Linked DNA regions of Homo sapiens: region 1 is linked to region 2. The links come from fine-mapping of genetic effects on gene expression. A gene starts in region 2. The other region holds a variant in brackets. All regions are shown on one strand. Distances are from middle to middle. Region 1 overlaps DNAH2 (dynein axonemal heavy chain 2). Region 2 holds the start of EFNB3 (ephrin B3).

Region 1 (2,500 bases), 82 kb after region 2:
TTCAACTCTGCAATGGGCCAGCTTCCCAATGAGTGAACAGAGCCGGAGTGCAGAGGGCCCTGGTGCCATTTTTAACAGTTTGAACGTATTCTCTCTGGCACCGGGGAGATTTTGAAAGCCCTTTAAAGGCCTCATCCTTTTTCTTCTGCTTGCTGTGTTTTCCCTTCCCTCAGCTGCGGGAGACCGTTGAGCAGGAGATTCGAGACATGGGCCTGCAAAGCACGCCGTTCACCCTCACCAAGGTTTTCCAGTTGTATGAAACCAAGAACTCCCGCCACTCCACCATGATCGTGGGCTGCACGGGCAGCGGCAAGACTGCCTCATGGCGCATTCTACAGGCCTCCCTGTCCTCTCTGTGCCGCGCCGGAGACCCTAACTTCAACATTGTTAGAGTACGGGGCTGGGACAGTGGAGTCAGTGGGCAGAGACTTGAGTAGTAAGAAGACAATGGAGGGTGGGGGCCAGGGAGGACCTTGCAAGGCCGGGAGAGCTGTACCTGGGACCATGGTGGCCTGGAGCGATGAGAGAAGGGACAAATGCACGTACCTAAGAGGGGTCTGGAAATAAAGAGGGGTTTTTGTCCATCAGCAGCTAAAACCCCTTCCGGTGTCATTTTCAGGAGTTCCCTTTGAACCCCAAGGCATTGTCCCTAGGGGAACTGTATGGGGAATATGACCTCAGCACCAATGAATGGACAGATGGCATCTTGTCCAGTGTCATGCGGACGGCATGTGCAGGTATCCAGAGGATCGTGGGGTGTGGAGAGCAGACGCCTGAGTCTCCTAAGGGGGCAGGGAGTCTGGGGATAGGAAGTTCCAAGTTGGGAGAGAAATGCCTGGGGAATGCTGAAGTACAAGGGAGTGTAGGCTTGTGTCTCCGAGGAGCGTGAGCGGAGGGTGCAAGGTGAGCGGCTCCCCGGTTTCCTCATCACCCACCATCTACTCAGATGAGAAACCCGACGAGAAGTGGATCCTGTTCGATGGCCCCGTGGACACACTGTGGATCGAGAACATGAACTCCGTCATGGACGATAACAAGGTGTTGACCCTCATCAACGGCGAGCGCATCGCGATGCCCGAGCAGGTCAGGGACGCGGCTGACTCCTGGAGGCCTGCAGAGGCAGGCACCGGAGGGC[G/A]TGGGCCGGGGCTGGGGAGGAGAGCCAGAAATCTCAGAGCAGGGCAGGTTCTGTGGGAGAGAGCTGAAAGGTGGATGCCTGGATTCAGGGAAACCTGCAGCTGAAGAAAAATGCTTTGCTTGCCGCGGCTGTTGAGAACAATGATAAGAAAAACACCCTCTGTTGTAAGCACTGTGTAGGCTTGGGCGGCCCTCCTCGGCTCGTTCTCACGGATGCATGAGGCAGGACCCTCGTTTGTGCACCCAGAGGTATGAATTCACGGACTGGCAAGCACACCCTTTTCCACCCACTCCAACAATGCGAGCAAGAGAGTGATTTTTCAAAAGGACAACCTTGAATAAGCTCTAGTTTCTTTTAAAGCAAACTGGGCCGGGCCGGGTGGCTCACGCCTGTAATCCTAGCACTTTGGGAGGCCAAGGTGGGCAGATCACTTGAGGTCAGGAGTTCAAGACCAGCCTGGCCAACAGGGTAAAACCCCATCTCTACTAAAAAATACAAAAGTTAGCTGGGTGTGGTGTTGTGCACCTGTAGTCCCAGGTACTCTGGAGGCTGAGGTGGGAGGATTGCTTGAACCTGAGAGGCGGAGGTTGCAGTCAGCCAAGATCACGCCACTGCACTCCAGCCTGGGTGACGGAGTGAGACTTTGTCTTAAAAAAAAAAAAAAAAAAAGCAAATCGTTTGTGAACTTGTAGCATCCGAGTTCCGGGTGTTTTATTATTCCTGAAGGTGGGGGATGCAGAGAAAGATGAAGTTCTGACAAACGTATATCCTTAGGTGTCTCTCCTGTTTGAAGTGGAGGACCTGGCAATGGCCTCTCCGGCCACTGTATCCCGCTGCGGGATGGTCTACACTGACTACGCTGACCTGGGCTGGAAGCCCTATGTTCAGTCATGGCTGGAGAAGAGGCCAAAGGTATGAAGGGAACTGAGGAGAGGGAAAGTAACCAGGGTGGCTCCAGGACACAAGGGTGAATGAAGAGCCCCTTCTTATTCAACTCCAGGCTGAGGTGGAGCCCCTTCAACGCATGTTCGAAAAGCTCATCAACAAGATGCTGGCCTTTAAGAAGGACAACTGCAAGGAGCTGGTGCCCCTGCCCGAGTACAGCGGTATCACCTCCCTCTGCAAGCTGTACTCTGCCCTGGCCACGCCAGAGAATGGGGTAAGGGGAGGACACAGACCACGGGCAGGGGCAGGGGGTGCTCACAGCCTCACCAGAACAACTTCTGGGAAACGGCGTGTCTGAGACAGGTTGAACTCCAGGCTTGAGTGGAGCAGAGACTCCAGGGGGAGGCTTCAACGACCATGGAGGCAGTGAGGGGTGTGTGTGTGCATGTCTGTGTGTGTGCACGTGTGCATTGAGCTGAA
Region 2 (2,500 bases):
ATGCCATTGACTGGTTGGTTGCTAGGCAACTTGGTAAACTGAAGGGGGAAACCTGTTTGAAATCTCACTCCCAAGGTGGGGGCGGCAGGGGTCAGGGTGAGCGGGGCTGAGCAGGAGCTGGGTCAGACTGTTGGGTGTGACCGTGTGAGACTGTGCAGACAGTGACAGGGCGCCTGTCGCCCACACTCCACACTGTTTGCCATTCTCCAGCAGCATGGGGACCATTACTCAGCTCTGAGGGGAGCAGGAGCACTCTCCTCCGCTCCCCGGGGCTCCCCAGGAGGCAGACAACCCAGTTGCCAGAGTCAAGGACACACATAAAAGAGTAAAGGTGTTGAAAAATACAGTCGTCACCTTTGATATTGCTGTTCCATGCGGGGCGCGGCGAGGGTCTTATTCATTCAGCGGCTGTCGCTGGGCTTGTTTCTCCATTTGTCTGCTCTGTCTTTGGGGGTGGGGGACGAGTGTGTCATTTGAAGCAGTGACTCCTCCCTCCTCCCCCCAACACCTTCCCAAACACTGAGAATGGGGGGACTTTGAAGAAATACTGCCAGCAGGGGATGTGATTTTGGACCTCACAATCAAAGGGAAGGGACGAAAGGCCTGGGGAGGCTTGAGAGGGAGAGGAATGTCACCCCTGCCCAGAGGTGCTGAAAGCCAGGGCTCTTACACCCGAAAAGGCAACTCCTCCCTTCCCCCAGGATAATTGGAAACAGCCCTTCCTGCGCAGCGCCGGTTTGGGGTTGTAGGTACGCCCCTTCTTCTCCCAGCCCCGCTTCTCCCCCCAGCCATCTAGGAAAGACCCAAGTGTATCCCCTAAACTCTTGTTTTTCACTAACCCCCAGGTAACAACAGCACTTGGTCCATGGAGCAGTGACAAAAGAGACCCCAAGAGTGGGAGGTGCGCAGCCTGGGTTTGGTTTCTAGCTTTATCCCAGACTTCCTGTGTGACCTTGGGCAAGTCACGGGGCCTCCCTGAGCCTCAGTTTCCTCATCTCTGCAATGGGATCGTTAGCTCTGCCCCTCCCACTTCACACAGGTAGTCGTGACGATCAGCTCCGCCGCACTTTGTAAAGCGCCAAGCCTTCAAGGTTATTATTATTCTCTCCAAACCTGCCGGGAGCAGCGGTGTTGTTTTGGGATGGAGGAGGAGGCTGCGGGAGCGAAAGGGGTGGGTTCCTCGGGGTGGAGAGGGCGAGAGCCTTTCTGGATTCGAGAGAGGAAGATTCCAGCAGCTTGGGCGATCGGAGGGCAGGAGGGGAGCCGGGCAGAACTCAGCCGGAGCCAGAGGCTCGGAGAGACAAAGGGGGCGTGACAGCCCGCGCCGGGGGCTGAGGCGGGGCGGCGGGCGGGAGGTGCGCGAGGTGAGGGAGGTGTGGGGGGCGTGGGCCGCGGGATGCTGCCGCCCGCTCCGCCTCGAGCTCCAGCTCCGGTTTTTCCCTCCACCATCCTCTGCCCCTCCCCGCCTCTCCTTTAACTCCCCCCTCCTGGGCTCGGGACTGGTTTCCTCCCTTAGCCCGCTGCCCTCAATCCCAGCGAGGCTGGGGCTCCGGCTCGGCGCCCCCTTCCTCGCTCCCTGGTCCGGCGCCCCATGCCGCCCCCGCCCGGTCCCCGGCTCCCCCAGTCCCCCACTTAGGCGGGCTCACAGATCCCGGGGTGCTGGCGCGTGGGCCGGGGGCGCGTAGGGCGCCTGCAGACGGCCCCTGGAAGGGCTCTGGTGGGGCTGAGCGCTCTGCCGCGGGGGCGCGGGCACAGCAGGAAGCAGGTCCGCGTGGGCGCTGGGGGCATCAGCTACCGGGGTGGTCCGGGCTGAAGAGCCAGGCAGCCAAGGCAGCCACCCCGGGGGGTGGGCGACTTTGGGGGAGTTGGTGCCCCGCCCCCCAGGCCTTGGCGGGGTCATGGGGCCCCCCCATTCTGGGCCGGGGGGCGTGCGAGTCGGGGCCCTGCTGCTGCTGGGGGTTTTGGGGCTGGTGTCTGGGCTCAGCCTGGAGCCTGTCTACTGGAACTCGGCGAATAAGAGGTGAGTGGCCTGCGGCTGGGGAGATCCCAGACCCTAGGGCAGTGGGTAGGGAAGCTCTGGGGGCTTGGAGGCGGGCTTCTGTGGGCAGGGAGGAGGCGGGAGGGAAGGTGCTGGTGCTCTGATGTGTGATGGGTTACTAGACAGGTGATCTTGGGAGCCAGACTCCGGGTCCCACGCAGAGCTGGATGCGGGTGGTGCTATGGATGTCAGGAGTTTGGAGACCCCAAAGGGGCAAGGAGAAGAAAGTTCATGGGTAGCCGGGAGGGCAGTGAGGTGGGTATTTGGATCTGTGGGAGGCCTGCGTCGGGGGCTGGGCTTGGAGGGAGCCTGGTTACTGTCAGCTCTCAGGAGAGAGCTGCAGATTAGGTGCTGCGAGTCGCTGAGGGGAAGGCAGGGCAGGGTGCCTCCCTCCCCCAGAGGGACTGCGCATCCGAGATGGGAGGCAAGGGGGTTCCGTTTGGGGGCTCTGGGGACAACTTC

The links.
Region 1: its variant is fine-mapped to the expression of EFNB3 in unexposed skin (GTEx, PIP above 0.99). The same link has a PIP of 0.9 or more in sun-exposed skin.

What each region holds. Positions count from the first base shown.
Region 1 is chr17:7,785,951-7,788,450 of GRCh38, forward strand. DNAH2 (dynein axonemal heavy chain 2) reads left to right here. Exons shown (of 86, transcript NM_020877.5): 40 at 174-392; 41 at 620-737; 42 at 947-1,083; 43 at 1,910-2,047; 44 at 2,136-2,294. Among named protein-coding and RNA genes, the nearest start is that of KDM6B, 47 kb to the right of the region's middle. The variant G/A (reference allele first, on the strand shown) is at 1,136.
Region 2 is chr17:7,703,701-7,706,200 of GRCh38, forward strand. It overlaps EFNB3 (ephrin B3), which reads left to right and starts at 1,502. Exons shown (of 5, transcript NM_001406.4): 1 at 1,502-2,020. The coding sequence starts at 1,899. RefSeq lists enhancers at 1-94, 95-986, 116-195, 1,880-2,500 and a silencer at 1-185.